Regions from separate parts of the Homo sapiens genome. Here all the other regions are reported to be linked to region 1. Evidence: microRNA targets listed by miRTarBase, many of them from high-throughput screens and not tested one by one. Region 1 holds a microRNA gene; each other region holds the end of a gene's coding sequence.

Evidence for each region. Region 1 holds the annotated microRNA hsa-miR-635 (ACUUGGGCACUGAAACAAUGUCC, at 3,452-3,474, shown strand). A microRNA usually pairs through its seed, bases 2 to 8, with sites in the 3' UTR of a target mRNA and lowers its output. Matches are read on the target gene's strand: a 7mer-m8 pairs with bases 2 to 8, a 7mer-A1 pairs with bases 2 to 7 and ends in A, and an 8mer does both.
Region 2: miRTarBase lists SEMA7A as a target of hsa-miR-635. Seed matches in the 3' UTR shown: 7mer-A1 at 6,348-6,354 and 8mer at 6,277-6,284.
Region 3: the mRNA of HM13 is a reported target of hsa-miR-635. The part of its 3' UTR that is shown has no 7-base or 8-base seed match.

Annotation. Positions count from the first base shown.
Region 1 is chr17:68,422,985-68,427,984 of GRCh38, reverse strand. MIR635 (microRNA 635) reads left to right here and starts at 3,437; the gene lies at 3,437-3,534. WIPI1 (WD repeat domain, phosphoinositide interacting 1) reads left to right here. Exons shown (of 13, transcript NM_017983.7): 11 at 732-850; 12 at 1,810-1,910. It also overlaps a transcript of ARSG not described here and a transcript of PRKAR1A not described here.
Region 2 is chr15:74,404,028-74,410,978 of GRCh38, forward strand. It overlaps SEMA7A (semaphorin 7A (JohnMiltonHagen blood group)), which reads right to left. Exons shown (of 14, transcript NM_003612.5): 14 at 5,262-6,951. The coding sequence ends at 6,597. Among named protein-coding and RNA genes, the nearest start is that of MIR6881, 3.9 kb to the right of the region's middle. RefSeq lists enhancers at 1-25, 235-314, 1,894-1,993, 5,213-5,713, 5,357-5,616 and 2 more.
Region 3 is chr20:31,567,336-31,574,286 of GRCh38, reverse strand. It overlaps HM13 (histocompatibility minor 13), which reads right to left. Exons shown (of 13, transcript NM_178581.3): 12 at 6,063-6,209; 13 at 4,744-5,167. The coding sequence ends at 5,068. It overlaps HM13-AS1 (HM13 antisense RNA 1), which reads left to right and starts at 1,024. Exons shown (of 3, transcript NR_046853.2): 1 at 1,024-1,145; 2 at 1,364-1,488; 3 at 6,339-6,700. LOC107985416 (a long non-coding RNA gene) reads right to left here and starts at 1,277. Exons shown (of 3, transcript XR_005647051.2): 1 at 849-1,277. RefSeq lists silencers at 745-1,324, 4,387-4,681 and enhancers at 1,126-1,667, 6,748-6,951.

The DNA.
Region 1 (5,000 bases):
CAGGAAGGTCAAGACTGCAGTAAGCTGTGGTCACACCACTGCACTGCAGCCTGGGCAACAGAGTGAGACCCTGTCTCAAAAAAGAAAAGAAAACAAAAGAAAAGCACTCATGCCTTCTGTGAACAGGCACAGACTGAGCTCTCCTGCTGTGGCCAGGGCACCAGAGCTGCCACCGCCCCCCACCGATGGCTGCTCTCCTTGCTAGCATGTCCTCACCTGTGTGTACTGGGAAGAGCAGAGGACTAATCTTTGTCTAGCCAATGTAAGAGAAAGAGGCCATTTTGACGGTGTGTGACTGCCCCTGGCAGTTGCAGGTCACTTCAGCTCATCCTGGCCCAGCAGCGTGTGGGTAGGTCTACAATTTAAACCCACAGAGTTGGCGGGCGGATCACCTGAGGTCAGGAGTTCGAGACCAGCCTGGCCAACATGGTGAAACCCAGTCTCTACTAAAAATACAAAAATTAGCCAGGCGCTGTGGTGGGTGCCTGTAGTCGCAGCTACTCGGGAGGCTGAGGCAGGAGAATCGCTTGAACCCAGGAGGCGGAGGTTGCAGTGAGCCGAGATTGCGCCACTGCACTCCAGCCTGGGCAATAGAGCAAGACCCTGCCTCAAAAATAAATAAATAACCCACAGAGCTGAGCACAGGCTTCTTCATGCTTTTCCTTTGGAAGGTGTCCTAGATATATGATGATTTCTTTTTTCTTTCACCTCCTCTTGATTGTCACAAGTAGCTTGCTTGGCTCAGGAACAACAGAAGAGAATAAAGAAAATGACCTCAGACCTTCCTTACCTCAGTCTTATGCAGCGACCGTAGCCAGACCAAGTGCATCTTCAGCCTCCACGGTGCCAGGTGGGTGGACACGGGGCCAACAGGGGAGCATCTCCAACAGTGACCTCCCTCCCCTTCTCCCTGCACGCTCCCTCCCCTTCCCCCTTCACTGTTACCTGGGGGTGGAGTGCCCTCCCTCCCCTTCCCCCTTCACTGTTACCTGGGGGTGGAGTGCTCTCCTTGAATTTTTTATTTTCTCACAGGTGAGGCCATGGTAATAGCCTTTAAACCTGGGACCCTCAACCTGGCAAGGCATCACACGATACGGTCTTTTTCCTAACAAGTGGTGTTAACCCTTTGCCTCTTCAAAAATTCCAATGAGGCCAGGCACATTGGCTCACACCTGTAATCCCAGCACTTTGGGAGGCTGAGGCCAGCGGATCACTGGAGGCCAGGGGTTTGAGACCAGCCTAGCCAACATGGTGAAACCCCATCTCTACTTAAAAAATAGAAAAATTAGCTGGGCATGTTGGCACACACTTGCAATCCCAGCTACTCCGGAGGCTGAGGCAGGAGAATTGCTTGAACCAGAGAGGCGGAGATTGCAGTGAGCTGAGATCATACCACTGCACTCCAGCCTGGGTGAAAGAGTGAGACTCTGTTTCAAAAAATAAAAACTAAACTAAAATTTCCAAAGAGCCTGTAGTCCTAGCCACTCAGGAAGTTAAATTGAGGCAGAAGGATCCCTTAGGCTCAGGAGTTCGAGACCAGCCTGGGCAACATACTGAGACCCTACCTCAACAAAGAAAAATTCAAAGAGGTAGGATGCCTCAGGCATCTGAAGTGGAAAGGCAGGTCAGGCTTAAAGATGGCAGATGGTGAGGATTATGACTTGTCCTAGGCACAGTACCTCCAGGGGGAAGACAGACAGCCCCTTTGCTTCCTTTGCCCTTTATTTGAGCCCCCGCTCCCCACCCGCCAGGTCATGGCATAAAAGCAGATCCCCAGTGCTTGTTTCATGTCTCTTTCTTGGTTTCCAGGTTATTCTGAGGACGGCGGGGCGCTGCGAGGAGAAGTTATTCCTGAACATGAGTTTGCGACGGGACCAGTGTGTCTTGATGATGAGAATGAGTTTCCTCCTGTGAGCATTAGGAACCCGTAACTGGGCGGCTCAGTCTGTGTGCTTAGAAGGAAACCTTCGCCTCATACGAGAGGCAGAGTCCCTTTCCCTGTTTTCTAATCTATAACAACTAATTCTCTGCTCTAGTATTTGGAAAGCCATAGGATATTTGTTGTACTGTGTGCTTCGAATCCTACAGAGTAGGCTTTAGGTGTCGAGCTAAACCCTGATGGCATTAGAGTCACCGAATACTAATCCAGGGAGTCTTGGTGGCCTCCCTCCAGCCAGAGGCCTGCGATCCCTTACTTTGCTTCTGTAGCACTGACTTTGCTGCCTGGAAGGTAGGAACACGTGACTTGTCTAAAACTTATTTTCCTGAGGCTCCCATGGATGCGTTTGCAGAATGCTGCCTTCCTTGTGCTGGAGGGGATGGTTTCAGAGGGCTGGGCTGTGTGTTCAGGACTCTGAGCTGAGTTGCTGCACTCTGTGAACCAGCTTGACCCTCACTTACCTGCAGCTCTGGCCGGCAGACCCGCACCTCCCCAGCAGTTGCAGACACTCATTAAGAAACAAGTGGCCGGGTGCGGTGGCTCACACCTGTAATCCCAGCACTTTGGGAGGCCGAGGCTGGAGGATTGCTTGAGCCCAGGAGTTAGAGACCAGCCTGGGCAACACAGCAAAACCCCATCTCCACCAAAAAAAAAAAAAAAAAAGAAAAGAAAAAATTAGCCGGGTGTGGTGTCACGTGCCTGTAGTCCCAGCTATTCGGGACGCTGAGATGGGAGGATCACCTGAGCCTGGGAGGTCGAGGCTGCAGTGAGCTCTGATTGTGCCACTGCACTCCAGCCTAGGTGAAAGAGTGAGACTCTATCTCAAAAAGAAAAGAAAAGCAATTGTGTGCTCTGTGGAGGGCAGCAGGTGCAGGGCAGGAGCTTGCCCGAGCACCTTTAGCTGGGTTTCCCAGCAACCTGCTCAGCCTGTTCCCACAGCTAGGGCCCTCGGGGCTGGCTGAGTGCTGGGCGTGGCTTCTTCCATCACCTGGAACTGAAGACAAGATTCCCTCCTGAGAGCCTGCTGGGGCTTCCTTAACTGCTGATTCTTCAGGCTCCCATCTGGAGTAACATATAGACCGCTCTTGTGAGCTTCAGTCAAAACATCCCAGATAGTCAACCTGAAATCATTTCGAGATGGAAGTACTGATTTGTTTTGTTTTGTTTTTGAGACGGAGTCTTGCTCTGTCACCCAGGCTGGAGTGCAGTGGTGTGATCTCGGCTCGCTGCAGCCTCTGCCTCCTGGGTTCAAGCAATTCTCCTGCCTCAGCCTCCCGAGTAGCTGCAATTACAGATGTGCGCCACCATGCCCAACTAATATTTTGTATTTTTAGTAGAGACGGGGTTTCACCATGTTGGTCACGCTGGTCTCAAACTCCTGACCTCAAGTGATCCACTCGTCTCGGCCTCCCAAAGTGCTAGGATTACAGGCGTGAACCGCCGCACCCGGCCGGAAGTAGTGTTTGGGCCAAGACTTGGAGCATCAGCTCCTAGAGCCAGAGAGGAGCTGCCACTTGGGCACTGAAACAATGTCCATTAGGCTTTGTTATGGAAACTTCTCCTGATCATTGTTTTGTGTCCATTGAGCTTCCAATTGTAAAAGGATGGAGTGCAGGTCTGGCTTCTTTCTCCCGCAGATCCGTGGAACCCTCTAGTGAGCACATTTGGCTTAGAAAACAAAGCTGCGGTGGGGCCCTGCATGCAGGGCTGGGGCTGTTGTTTTGTGATTTCCCACATCGGCTCTGCGGGTCGGTCGCAGCGTGAGCTTTTACATTTCTGGCTTTCAATAGGCAGGTTGTCAGAGACGTGGCTGGCAAGTGAAGTTTATATCTCAGTGGCGGAGAGCAGTTGTTCTTAAAAATACTAATTATAAACTTCAAAACCTCTGTTGGCATGCTGCCTAACTATAAACCAGTTGTTTTACCTTTGGGTTCTCATGGCCCCAACTGGCCTTAAAGGGCGTTCTTCTGCACCCTCAAGAGGCGGTGGTTATTTACCTGAAGTCGAGGCTTCCAGGATCCAGAGCACTCTAGGTCAGACACCGTGGGGACAAATGTGACCATTCTACTCTGTCAGGGTTTACCACATCCAGACACTCACTAGGTTCCGTTTCACTAATTTTGGTAAAAGTCTGTAACTACTATAAAATATTATTAGATTCTTAATTGTAATCGCAGTAAGCCTTGCAACCTCTTATAGTTACAGAATTGGGGTAATGTGGATATTAGTATCTAGGAGGTAGTTCCTTGCCAAAGAACCTGTATAAAATAATAGGTACCTTGTGCAGATCATTTATTTGGGGTAAAAAGGAAAAGGGGAGGTGCTTAATTGAAGAACCAGTAAGAAAGTTTGTCCTGAGGCCTGTGTGCCCATTCAGTGCCAGGAAGCTGGGCATGAGCCAGTTGTTTCTTCTCCCTCCTAAGGACCAAATGAGTGAAAGTTGGTTGAAATTGCATCAGGAATTCTTATTTATACGCAAGAAATACTTCCTGCCAGTGAGAGTGGTCACTGAACAAGGTCCCTAGAACAGGTGTTAGACCCTTGTGAGTGTCAAGCAGCCCCTGTGTGCAGGGCTGTGTCGTGGCAGCCACCAACCTCTCAGTCTGCCCTCCAGCCTGCAGGTAGATGGTGATGAGGGGCAGTGCTCCCACTAAGGCACTGTCTCAGTAGCAGGCAGGCTTCTCCATCTCACCATGTAAGGACCAGAGGCATGCATGCTCCTGGGATGCTCTATCAATATGGCCCATCTCAGTCATGCCTGAATTGGCAGAAATGTTCAGCGAGGGATGCTAGGGAACTTCCTCTCTGTCTCCTTATTCTGAATTGTCATGCCTATTGCAAATCTCTGTGCAGAATTCACATCTTTACTCACATTCCTTAAAATCTTCTAGGACCACAAAAGGCTCTTGGAGTCTCAGCTTGGTTAAAATCGCCTCTCTTGTAGTGACGAACAAACATAGGCTTGCCTGAGTAGTCTGCTACAGGAGCTCTGTGAGCCGCTGCCTTAAGAACGCGGGTCATCACTAGTGATCTTTTCAGAACACATACTGACACTTCCCTG
Region 2 (6,951 bases), not on the chromosome of region 1:
GTAGCTGGGGCAGATTGTGCAGACAGTCTGGATTGTGGAGGAGCTGCCGGGCGCAGGGCCCCACTTGGCGCGGGCGGCTGTGGGGGAGGCTGAAACTGCAGACTATTTTTAGGCTCCTGCTGAATTGAGAGATGAGGATGCTCTGGGCTACAAGCCCTCATTCGCTGGGGAAAGACTAAGGGGGCCCCAGTTCCCCCGATCTGCCCCCAGAGCTCAAAGTCTCCAGAGCTTCCTCTTTTGTCTCTAGGGACCAAGGGCTGGGGTCAGGAAGTGGACTGGAAGTATCCCCAGCACCCTAGATAGGCAAACACCCACAAGAAGTGATTTCCATACCATTTGCACACTGCCCTGCTTCCTGATCAGAAGGAACGGAAACGTTCCCTTTCAGAAGACCCTCAGCGGAGCAGTGCATTCACCAGAGTCCACTTTCACCTGCCCCACTGGGTATCAGGAGAGTCCCAGGAGAGCGACACAAGCTCTAAAGTCAGAAAGCACAAACGGGGGTTGTTAGCACTGTGGTGTAGCATCCGCTAGGCTCGGGGTAGCAAATAAGTTCCATCTGATCAATTGCTGGTGACTCCTAAGGAGAAATGCTGGTGAGGATCCATTCATTCATTCCACAAATAATTTACTGACCACCTACTGTGTGCTAGGTGCTACTCTAGGTGCTATGAAATTTAGCTGTGAACAAAAAAAGACAAAATTCCCTGCCCCCGCAGAGCAGATATTCCGTAACAGTGTTGTCCAACAGAAATACAATATGAGCCACACACATAATTTAAAATGTTCCAGTAGCCACACTAGATAAAAGTTAAAGAAGACCAGGAGCGGTGGCTCACGCCTGTAATCCCAGCATTTTGGGAGGCCAAGGCGGGCAGATCATTTGAGGTCAGGAGTTGGAGACCAGCCTGGCCAACATGGTGAAACCCCGTCTCTACTGAAAATACAAACATTAGCCGGGCGTGGTGGCGGGCGCCTGTAATCTCAGCTACTCGGGAGGCTGAGGTAGGAGAATCGCTTAACCTGGGAGGCGAAGGTTGTGGTGAGCCAAGGTCCTGCCACTGCACTTCATTCTGTGCTACAGAGCAAGACTCCATCTAAAAAACAAAACAACAACAACAAAAAAAGTTAAAGAAATAGGTGGAATTAATTTTTGTATGTTATCTAGCCAAATATATCTTATATCTGAAATATTATCATTTCTTTTTTTCTTTTTTTTTTGAGACAGAGTTTCATTCTTGTTGCCCAGGCTGGAGTAAAATGGAGCAATCTCAGCTCACTGCAACCTTTGCCTCCCAGGTTCAGGCGATTCTCCTGCCTCAGCCTCCCAAATAACTGGGATTACAGGTACACGCCACCATGCCCACCTAATTTTTGTATTTTTAGTAGAGACAGGGTTTCACCATGTTAGCCAGGCTGGTCTCAAACTCCTGACCTCAGGTGATCTACTGACCTCAGCCTCCCAAAGCTCTGGGATTACAGGTGTGAGCCACCACGCCCAACCTCTAATATTATCATTTCAAAGTGTAATCGATGTAAAAATTTAAGGTCATTTTTTTCATATTATGTTTTCAAAATCCAGTGTGTTGTTTATACTTACAGCACATCTCAATTCAGATGAGCCCTATTTCAAGTGCCCAGTAGCCCCCAGAGAATGCAAGTTCTGAAGAAAATCACTCATATGAGCTCAGGAAAGGAATGCCACAATTGATCAGCAATGCCTGCTCCAGGCATAGGCTACAGCTGAATCAAGCTGCAAGCCATGTGTTTCCCCACCATGATATAGGCTCAGCCCCAAAGGACGTGTTCACCTCTACCTAAGCCCTTCTGAGCTCATTTATTTTGCCCAACTTGAAAGAACTGCCAGAGTTCTGGGACCTTGACTTGGTTCGAGTGCAGCGGTTCTGGTGTGAACACCACCCTACAGAAACGCCCCAGCATACTAACAGGGCCAGCGCCTCCCGAGTGTGGTTCTGTGCTCCTTCCCTTGGTGGGGGCTGACTCATGGCCATTGGTGACCCTGAGAATGTGGATTTTGTTTTTGTTTTTCTCCCAAGGTCTCTTCCTCCCAGAGTTAACCAATATTGAGATAAAAGTGTTTCCGAGCCAGATTTAGCCATTTCAGCCCCATTCCACTGGCCCAAGCCTACAGACCTCCTGTCTGGCACTGTAGCCAGGATGGCTGCACTTTCTTTTCCAGTAAGCAGAAGGCTAAAATTGGACCATTTAAGGAGCTAGAAACACCTGGAAATGGTGAGGAGTGGGTCTTTGGTGTAAGAGATGGGGTGTAAGAAAACACGGATCTCAGGCTCCCATTATCCTCACCATTATTATCATTATCATCTACCCCACCCCTGCTCAAAATCCTTCAATTGCTCCCTAGTGTCTGCAGGATAAAGATCTTGCTTTAGTTCCCAGGATCGGGAACTGCTGGAGTCATCCAGTCTCACCTCTAGATACTCTCCCTTCTCTCATCTTATTCATTCATTCAGTAAGAATGTCCTGAGCACCTAATATGTGCCAGGCACTGTTCTAGGTACTAGAGATACAGCTGTGAACAAAACTGCCAAGGATTTCTGGCTTCATGGAGCTCACTTTACTCCAGCGAGCCCATAACACCCCAGGCCCTCTCACACTCCCAGGCCTTTGTAAATGCTGTTCCCTCTCCATTCAGTCACTCTCCTCCTGGGGAACTTCTACACATCCTCTAAGGCCCTACTCAAAGCCTTCCCTGAGCACTCCGCTCAATGGGTTAGGTTCCTCCTCTGAGCTCCCACCTCCCACCTAGGACCGTCACACGTATGGTCACTGTCCAGCCCACAGCCCTTCCCTACCAGGCTTTAAGTGTCTCCAGGGCAGGGGCTGTGCCTTCTCCCCCAGGGACCCCAGAGCTTGCTTCCAGGTGCACCCTCCCAAAGATCAGGAGTGAACAGGCTGAGGCATTAGTGTAGGGGGGATCCAGGATTCCTCTGGAGAATTCCATGTCATTCTGAAATCTTTGCCTGGGAGCATCTTCCTCCTGGCATTCCAGGGGAGGGAATCACAGGAGCAAATGCAGAGCGGTTCCAGCAAAGGAAGGTAGAAGTCTGAGGAGAGATGGGAAGGGTATGATTTGATGTAGCAGAGAGACAAGAGGACAGCAGCCTTCCCTCGGGGAGAGAGGATGACAGGACATGTGGATGGGGGATAAACCGTAATGACTCTACATTCCTAAAGTGGGAGGGAGGCAGAACGAAATCTGCAGTTCCCTGCTGCCTTCCCCAGGAGAGCTGAGCTTTCAGTCTCGTCCCTCTTCCTCCTCCCCAACGAGAATGCACAAGAGAGGGGAGAAGGATGGGCCTGGTTCCTGCCCCTGGCCTGGCTCTGGTCCCTGGCCTGGCCCTCAAGAAGCCAGTGCTGGGACTGTGGATATCGTGTGGTTATGGCTAGAGCAGATCCTCCCACCACCCGGGCCCAGCCTAACCGTCCTGCCCACACACCGCCAGCTAGAGGCCTGCTGTGCTGCTTGTCCATTGGGGAAAACAGGGCAGGAGGCTTGTGCCTGGCTGGCCTCATCCCTGCCAGCTCATTTACATGGAATTTACACGGGCTCATTTCATGCCTTAATGCACACGGCTTCCCTCCCAGCCCAGCCTCTCCTGGTGCCTCCACAGAGACAATGGAGTGGGTTCCATCACTCAAATCCCCTGCCATGGACCCATCAGAGCACCAGGAGCATCTCTGGAAAGAGGGAGGCTGCTGAGGCCCAGAGAGGACAGGGAACTCAGTGGAGACCACCAGCAGCACTCCAGGAGGGACCAAGGCTTAAGCCCACACTTTGTCCACTCGCCGCTCAGACCATTTGGGGCTGGAATTCACTCCCATCCTTTGCTTTGCCACCAGCCTCCAGCTTGCTGAGCAGGAGCCTGTGAAACCCCCATCCTGATGCCGATGCTTGGCTGTGCACTGGAATACAGACGGACTGGGACAGACGAGATGTGCAGGAAAGGGTCCACAGAAGCCCAGGTCCAGCCCTGCCTTTTACACAGGAGAGAAATGAGGCTCGGGAAAGGCGAGGGTCTGCCCAGGACCACAAACGCCAAAAATGGTGGCAGCAGCCCCAGGTCTCTGCCCCAGCTGCCCAGGGCTCTTCTGGGTCCCCCAAACTCCCAAAGACCCCTGGTCCCATGTACCTGCTGAGACCTTGGTCCCCCAGGGCATGCCGAGTGTTGGGGGAGAAAAGGATGGGGAGAATCCTCAGGAATGGGCTGGCTATGAGAGTGCAGAGCAAACTGAAGTGGGAGGGAGCACTATGGGTGGGGGCAATTCCAGTCCTGTGGGGTTTGCCAGAGCCAACCAGAAGCTGGGCTCGGACAGAGAAGTAAACTGCCCCAAGTCTGCCATGGACCCCTCCAGCAGTCACTGCTCAGGAAAAACGCCTAGCAGACCCCAAAGGCCTAGGTCCTTGCCTCCAGGGACAGGGGACAGAGAAGGGAACAAGGGGGAGGGGAGGCCTCTGGGCTTCTATCTGGACTTCTATCTGCAGTGCTCCCTACTGTCCCTGCCCTTCATCCCAGGACCACTGCTCTCATCCTGACCTCCACCCGCCACCAGACAGCCTCCTAACTAACTCCCCTGCATCCTTCCACCCCAGCCTCAGAGGCTCCTTCCTGCATAAACTTCTGTGTTCTAAAACCTATTTACTTGATCTTGGAGGGAGTCCTGAGTTTCTACAACTCAAATCCTACCTCATCACTCATAAACCCTCCCCACAGGTCCCTCCCTACTCTCCAACCCTCACCCAGACCCCTACCCTGCCTGGAGCAAATCCCATTCCCACATCTCTTCAGCCGGCACCAGCCTCCTGCACACACACTCAAGGCCACAGCATCCCACAGGGTCGCATTTGATCAGCTTGCCCTCCAGAACTGCCCCTTGAAGGCAGGGAGTCCTGAGGCTGTTTCTAGCATGACCCAGGCCAGGCCTTCCAGGGGGAAGTGGTGGGAGGTGAAGGCTGGGAATGGGGAAAAGGGGTGCACGTGCTATTGGGGCTCTGGGGTCAAGGCTCGAGCAAGCAGCACGCTGCTGAGGAGTCGTGGGTTCAGGTCCCCATTCCTGCCTCTCACTAGCTACAGCCCTGCTGAGCTGGCTCCTGGGCCCTAACCAGGACATGAAAGAATGCATGTGATGCTCACGCAGCCAGGGGGTGGCGAGTAATAAACAGGAGCCCCCACCAACACCCCCTGACCAGGACAGCTTTGCAGGCAAGGAACAGGCGCAGGTAAATAAATAGCTTGTTTATTAGTAATATGTTACATTATTAAAGTGCATTGAGAAGAGGTGCAGGGGCCAAAGCTGGAAGGCCACTGGCCCCAGCCACTGCCCTGGGTGGCCAGACACAGCCGGAGAAGGGCCCAGCTCCCCCCTGAAATGGATGGACAGGGCTGGGGGCAGGGCCGCCTGCCTGGAGAGCTCGGCCCAGGCCATCCCCACCGGAATTTTCACAGTTTAGCCTAAGTTATAACATGTCCTGAGCGAAGGTGGGAGGCTAGGAGCATGGAAGCACAGCCCCTGGGGAAGGGGGCTGAGAGGAAGGGAGGAGGCCCCCCGCCCCCCAACCCTCAACGCCAAGGGCAGAGTCCTGGAACCTCCCCCTGAGGACCCGGCTCGTCCTTCCAAATGAACACGGTGAAACTAGGGCTCAGTTTTCTCCTTCATTCTCCCGTTTCCCTCACCCCACCCCCTCCCATAACCACCCCCAACACTAGGGGCTCCAACAACGTCCCCCTCAGACCGGGCTCCCAGGGCAGAGCCAGCTCATGCCACTCTCCAAGAACCCATGCCCGTCTCCAGACTCTTATCTCATCCCCGGGAGCCTCAGACTGGGATCACCCCCGCTCCCCAACCCATCCCTTCCCAGCCCCTCCCTTTCCCACCCACCCCCCCGCATGTAGTTTTGGTATTTTCATACAGATGCAGTCGGAAGTAGCTATACATGAAATAAGCCTAACATAAAAATAGAGCTTTTTCCGTCCTTCCGTCCGGAAAGCAAACATCCTTCAATAAACATGCAAGGCGGCTGTCCTGTGGGACCCAGGACCAGAGAGGGAGCTGCAGAGGACAGGGCTGGACAGAGGGTAGCCCTGGGTCTTCAGGAACACCAGCCACCCAGCCATGAGAGAGGGAGGGGAAGGAGGCAATGTGGGTACCAAGAGTCCAGAAGGACTCAGGCCTCAGCCCCAGGGTCGAGATGGAGTCCCAGCTCTCCTATCCAAACCCACTCCCCGACCCATGGGCTCTTGGGCTGGGAGCATCGCTGCATTTAGTCAAGTTTGAGGAGTCTGAAAAATATTTTCCAGAAGATAAAGTCTTGGGTCATCGATGCCCCAGCTTCACAGTCGGTGCCCTCATTCTCAGCCCCTCACCATCCGTGCGCCACCTGGGGCCCAGCAGCCGCCTGCGGCTGGACGTCTCCAGGCCTGGCATCCTCCACTGGGTTATTCTGTCCCCTGGAAGAAGTGGCAGGCAAGGAGCTCCCGGGCCAGCCGGCTCTGAGTGTGAGACGTTCTAGTGCCCTGGGCTGCAGAAGCCTGAGGCATGCCCAGCCTCGGGAGGCCCTAGTGGACCAGCAAGCCAAGAGTGAGTGTGGGCAGCACCCCCAGCCAGAGGGAGGCGGCCAGGGCACAGGCATGACCCAGCAGGTGCTCGGCCATGATGCCGTCCTCGGGCAGCAGCTGCCAGTGCTGAGCCTCGCGGAAGTAGGAGCCCTCCTGGGCCTCGCAGAAGTAGTGGCCGTACTGCTGCGCCGTGAGGTTCTCGATGAACAGGATGCAGTTGGGGCTCTGGTGACCAGGTTCGCAGCTCTGCTCCACGTTCTCCTTGTGGCGCCATGAGTAGGTGGCGTGGCGGGATTCCATGGGGCAGCTCAGGTAGTAGCGAGAGTTTGGGGCCAGGGAAACCTTCTGCAGTGGG
Region 3 (6,951 bases), not on the chromosome of region 1:
TGCCCTCAAATTTACTCAAAATAGTATCTCCCTTTTTTTAATATTTTGGAGACTCTTCCATAAATATCTATTGAGAACACACTATGTGTGATTTCCATGTATTTATTTATTTTACTTAATCCTCACAGCCATTATGTAGACGAGGAAAGTGAAGCTCAGAGATGGGAAGTCACTTGCCTGAAGCCGCAGGTTGGTAAACATTAGACTCTAGGTAATTTGATAATTTGTGTCCATTTATGAAGTGCCTGCTGTAGCCAGGCCCTCAGGATTGTCCCAAACCTTTATAGTCACTCTTACAACAAATACTGAGTGCCTTCATGTTTCAGGCAATGGGCCAAGTGTTGGGGCTACGGTGGAGAGGAAAACAAAGGCTTAGCCCATGGTTGAGGGAGGTTCAATTGTTCACCCCATTTTTCAGGTAAGAAAACCAAGGAAGAGAAGGGAAAGAAAGTGTCCTGAGATCACACGGTCACACGAAAATAGCTGAGGCACGGCGCGGTGGCTCACGCCTCTAATCCCAGCACTTTGGGAGGCCGAGGTGGGAAGATTGCTTGAGCCTGAGTTCGAGACCAGCCTGAGCAAGAGTGAGAACCGCCGTTTCAACTAGGGGAAAAAAAAAAAAGCCAGGCGTGGTGGGACACACCTATATTCCCACCTGAGGTGGGAGGATCGCTTGAGCCCAGGAGGTCGAGGTTGCAGTGGGCCGTGATCGCGCCACTGCACTTCAGCCTGGGCGACAGAGTGAAACCCTGCTGCACAAATAAAAGAGAAAAGGGAAAAAGAGCGGAGACAGGCAGCCCCGCTTTACAGGTAGGGAAAGTGAGGCACAGAGAAGTAAAACGACCTACCCAAGGAAACCCATCTAGTAAAGGCAGGGACCGGGATCGCAGGCTCTTGGAGCTCACCAGTCCCCGCCGGGCGGTGCTTGGCCCCTCCTTCCCCTCCGGCGGGCGTGGCCCGGCCGGGCCCGCCCCCTCCCCTGCGCGCGTTCCTGGCAGCCCGGCCGGCGTTTCCTGCCTGCGTCGCTGAGCTGGCGGGCGGGCAGCCCATCTGGCGGCCCCCGCGGGGCGGCGCGGGGAGGCGGCCCAGACTTGCTGGAGCCAGGCGCCGGCCCGGGGGCCCCCCTGCCCGCCTGGAGAACCCAGGTGTGGCCGCGGCGGGGGTGGGGGGTGGTGCTTTCCTTCCCGCTCGCTCGGCCCTTCCTGACGCACCAGGGCAGGATGCAGCCTCCTCCCGTCCTCTCCTCGGCCTCCGCCTCCCGCGCCCTGGCCCGGAATGCTGGAGGGAATCCAAACGCAGGGCGGGGAGGCAGGGGCAGGCCCCTGAGGCCCCGCCCCTGATAGCCATTTGATACCACCGCTAGTCTTGCCCGTGTTTGGGGTGACTCAGCTTCCCTGCTTGTGCAAGAACAGCTGAACTCTGACCTCCTGAATGGCCGACTCTTGCCTTGCTCCTCAGGGACCCCAGACACGATCGTAGGAACCGGAGGTACTACTGCCCTAAGCCATAGCGCTTGACATTATCCATTTATTCAGCAGTTTCAAGTCGCGGCAAGCGGCGTTTGACCACTTCTGTTCCCTGCCCAGTGCTTAACTGGTACCTGGTGCCGGCCTGATGGAGGCTCTGAAGGCTTTCCCTCAGAAAGCTGGACCCGCCCTGGGAAGCAGGTCCTAACCCCCCTTCACAGTCGAGCACAAGACCGCTTCATTCACACTGCAGGAGCCAGCCCTGCTGTCAGACTGACGGTGCCAAACCCCCTTCTCCAATGCTGCCCCCAAAAGGAACCAGGGATCCATTATCCTGATCATGTCAAACGGCACCACGGTGAATACGAGTCTTGGAAGCCAGACACTCTGGGTTCACATGCCCCCTGGGCCCGCCCTTACGGTCTCTGCCTCAGTTTCCCCATCGTAAGAATGATGTAGGTACCTCAAAGTGTTGTTACAACGATTAAGTAAATCTTAAGATACATTTGAAACTTGAACACGGGTTTCAATTGTGCAGGTGCACTTAAACGTGGACTTTTTTTCTACCTCTGCCACCCCTGAGACACCAAGACCAACCCCCTCCTCTTCCTCAACACAGAGACCAGGATGAAGATCTTTATTTATGATGATCCACTTTCACTGAATAATTTTTTTTTTTTTGAGACGGAGTCTCACTCTGTCCCCCAGGCTGGAGTGCGGTGGTGCAATCTTGGCTCACTGCAACCTCCGCCTCTTGGGTTCAAGTGATTCTCCCACCTCAGCCTCCTGAGTAGCTGGGACTACAGTCGCCTGCCACCATGCCAGGCTAATTTTTGTATTTTTAGTAGAGTCGGGGTTTCACCATATTGGCCAGGCTGGTCTCGAACTCCTGACTTTGTGATCCGCCTGCCTCTCTCGGCTTACTGCAAGCTCTGCCTCCCGGGTTCAGGCCATTCTCCTGCCTCAGCCTCCCGAGTAGCTGAGACTACAGGCGCCTGCCATCATGCCCGGCTAATTTTTTGTATTTTTAGTAGAAACGGGGGTTTCACCATGTTAGCCAGGATGGTCTCGATCTCCTGACCTCCTGATCTGCCCATCTTGGCCTCCCAAAATGCTGGGATTACAGGCATGAGCCACCATGCCTGGCTCTTAGGATTTTCTTAATTACATTTTCTCTAGCTTACTCTATGGTAGACAGTGTAGTACGTATAACATACAAGATGTTTTGACTGTTTATGTTATCAGGTAAGGCTTCTGGTCAACAGCAGACTATTAGTTGTTTTGCGGGACTGAAAAGTTATACAGATTTTCGACCATGATGGGTTGGTGCCCCTAATCCCTGTGTTGTTCAAGGGTCAGTTGCACTAGCATAATGCTAGTCACGTGAAATACAGTCAGTGCACACTGGGGTCTCAGCAGGGCTGGTTTTCCCCTTGGAACCCTCTCTCTTGTCGCAGTCATGGGAGACTGAGGCACAGAAACAGAATCTAATAAAGCAGGGTAGAACTTGGGTTCTAGAGCAGTTTCCTAATAATCCACCCCAAACCAGGTGAGGCTGGCATCTAGCCCACTCGGGGCCCTGCCCAACCACCCACACCCCCTCCCCAGCATGCAGGCCCAATCCTTGCCCGGCCTGGTGCCATTTTTCCATGGGACTCTGATGGTGGCGGTTCACATCTGGAGTCTAGACTCGCAGGCTCTGCGGGCCAGGCCTACCGCCTGGGCTGGGCCACCACTGCCCGCTGTTTGCTCAGCTGAAGCTGGTTAATTGGAATTACAGTGGCCTCTGCGGTGCCGGCTGGCCGGGCGGGCCCTAGTCCGCTGCTCCGGAGGTCTGTGGAACATCTGGCTGGACCAGGACAGTCATTAGGTGGCAGGCGCTCGGCGCCACTGCCACCTCAGCCTCTGCCGGGGGCTGGTGGTGACTCAATAAGGCCTTTGTGCGCCCTGGGCCGCAGAGCCAACCATGCTATGTGCCTGGGCCGCCTGCCCCATCTGCCTCAGAGGGGCCTTGTTCCAGGACCACATGGCCTCAGAGTTGGCTGGAGTGGGTAGAGATTCCAGAAGCCCCTGAAAGGGAACCCCCCTCCCTGAAAGGAAGAAGCCTTTTGAAATTTTCTACCCCTTTTCCTTCCTATAGAACCCTGGAGCCAGTAAAATTGGGTGGCTGGGGCTCAGGGATGCCCAGCACACCAGCCAGTGACTTGGTCCCAGGGGTCTGGGGAGGAGCTGCGGTCCTTAGGAACCTGGAATTGTTTGGCTTGGCTAAGGTCAAATCGATGTCCATGGGCAAGCTGCCTCAATTCCCTCATCTGCACAGCGGAGCGAATAATAGCACATACAGCCCAAGACTCAGAAGGAAGTGAAATCCTATATCAAGGTGCTTAGTGCATGTCAATACCTAGTGAGGGTATTACAGTCATACTCCTGAGTCTCTGGTCATGATTGTCCTTTGGCCACTTCCAAACTGGAAGCCACTGTTATTTTCAGCCTTTGAACCTGAAGCTTGGGCAAGGGAGAGCCCCGGGTCTGTCAGTATGGTGGCCACCCGCTCCTGTCTGTTTCCCCACTCAGTGACCTCATACCAGGTGGGTGGATGAGGGTTGTGGCCACCGTTTGCCTGGTTTGGGGTGGTGCCCGGTCGGTCTCCTGCTGGCCGGGGCTGCTGTCTTCAGCAAACTTTAGGGAAACCCGGGCGCTGAGATTTCAGCTCTTAGGCCCCAGAAGGCCTCTAAGAATCACTAGCTCAGTCCTTCCCCACCCCAGCCTCTAGAGGTCCTGGCCCTTGTGCCATGACTGGCCCCACAGTAGTCATTTTGGGAAGAAACCCAGGAATGGGCAGAATGGGAGACAAAGCCTTGATCTTCAGGGCAACCTAGAGTCTGAGCCCTCATCAGCCGAAGCCATATGGGCACAGGGACCAGGGAGGCTGGCAGGTTCTACAGTTACTGCTTCCCTTGTGAGTCAGGTCAGCCCTGGGTACTCCCCACCACTCTCACCATGGTGAGTGGGAGACTCTCATCTGCCAACACCCTTGCTGCCCCCAAGTATTTCGAGGAAGGTGGTGAGAAAAGTGCTAGCTGGTGAGAGAGGGCTCGTGGGCCCCCTCTACTGGCTAAAAGGTGTTTTACGGGTGCAGGGCTGGCCAGGCACTGGGGTGGGCACCCTTAAGGGGCTTGCAGAAAAGATTTTGGGTGGGCAGGTGAGACCTAGAAAACCCAGGGCAAGACACTGGGTGCTTAAACAGAGAATCTTCCAGGAGCACAGTGGCCCGCCCTGGCCATGGGATGAGTTTTTAATGTGAGGCAAAATCAGTCCACAATACAAAATCTAAAAATCACACCCACTTTTCCCACCTGGCTCCCGGGGAGGGGGGAAGCTGGGGGTTTCTTTTGCCTGCAGGGTGTGGGGAGGAGCAGAGGAGGGCCAAGAAAGGGAGAAGGAAACAGAGGCCACAGAGGCCTGGCTGGAGGTATCCTGCTGCCCCCTGCCCTGTCCTGGAGCTGCCCTTGGCCTCCTGTGCCCTCTACCGGTGCACGCCTGTGTGGGCCCAGCCCCCATCTGTCTGGTCTGGCCCTGAGAGGCTCGGGCACCAGCTGCATCATTTCTCTTTCTTCTCCAGCCCCTTCGATGCTGATGCCTCTGTTCCCTCTTTGGATTCTGTCACTGCCGCTGGATCCTTAGGATTTGACTCCTCATAACTGACCAAAAAAAAAAAAACAACAATAAAAATTCATTTAGAGGAGAGGGTGAGCAGAACCTTGGTTGTCCCCTTCCCCCACCCCCATCCTAGGAAAGCGCCTGGTCACATGCAGAGCGTCAGCCCTGTGTCCACTGCCCAGCACCTAACAGCGCCTGGCCCCAGCCCTACCACATGCCCTCCTCAGGCAGGCTGCTCTGCTTTCTCTGAGCCTGGGGGTACCAGGAGGCAGCAAGGGCAGCAGCCAATGGAAGAGAGGTTGGGCCTGGGCTTGTGTGGGCTGATTTCAAGCTTCCTGAACCTTCTGCTGTAGCGTGGAAAAAGGGGTGGCCATGACAAGGCTACAAGAGATGGAGATAGGCTGCCTCCCAGGGCACACAGCATGAATCAAACAGCTCAGCCCCAGAGGTGAGGGCACTGCTGTACTGGCAAGCGGCAAGGTGCTGCTCTGAAGACAGACACCCTGGCTTAGCTTCTTCTATGGGCTTCATTTTTCAAGCAACTGAGTTCATGCCAAAGATAATACAAATCTTTCCTCACCAGATAAACCCCGTGAGGCAGGAATGTGCCCACTTACAGATGAAGAAAGTAACTTGCCTAAGGTTATACATATACCTTGAATGGTAACAGTATCTACTACTGCATGACAAGGGCCATTTCCATCCACTATGATGTGGGCCCCGCATTACTGGTGAGGGCAGGAAGCTTCGGGGTTGTCCTGCTTCCCAGCCCTATGGCTCGGTGCAACCACTGCCTGGTGGTTGTGGAGGAGCTGCTCTTGCGGCCTACTCCTGGCAATGGTCCCTGCCCTATGCACTGGAGCTGCAGTGTCTGCCCTACCTTGGGCCCCGGGGCAGTAGGGGGAAGCGGGCAGGTGGGCACCCGCTGGGCATTACATGGCGCTGGGATTCTGCGGGCGCCGGCGGCGAGGGCCAGCTAGCTTCTGCTGCATGGAGTCGGCCAGGCTGGCTGGGGAGCCCGAGACTGTGGGGAAGTGGGTGAGCCTCGGGGTATGAGGCAGGATTTCCGCCGAGGACTCGTAGCTGTGTGAGAGAGAGAGAAGAGACAGAAAAAAAGAGATGGATAGGGAAAGACTAAGGGAGGACAGAGACTTCCTTTCCAAGGAGCAGAGAGCAGAACTGTCTTGTTTTTACCTATTTTTGCACTTCCAGATTTTATGGAAAGAAGCTGATATTATTTGGAGAATGAAAAAAGAAAGATGCACCTAGACAAAGGCACATCAGGCCACTGTGCAGAAGAACAAGCATGCTCTAGAAGTGTATGTGCTGCTGTGGAAACACCTCTAAGAAATACCGTAGAAACCCAATGTGCAGAATGCTCCAAGAATGCCACCGTCTGTGCAAGAAAAAGTATACACACATCAGTGCACAGGTGTCTGAATGTCTGTGTAACACTGCTGGCCTCTGTGGGGTAGCTGGAGCATGAGGGTGCTCTCTCTGTTACAGCTTTGGAATTTTTAACTATGTGAATGTGGTACCAATATAAAAATAAGTAAATCAATAAAAAAAGGAGGAGAATAGAAGGGAAAAGTAAAAAGGTGGAGAATTGGGAGAGAAATGGGGAGAAAGGAGGGAGAGAGAGAGAGAGAGAGATCACTTGCTTTTTACCCCAATCTAAGAATGTCCAGGGTGGGAGTGGAGGGCAAACAGTGGGGGCAGGGTACCTGTATGGCAGAGCATTTAGCACCAAGCAGGTAAAGGCCAGGGGCACCCTCTGCCTTGTGTATTCAGAGCTTTGCCTGATGAGGGCACAATAGCATTGGGT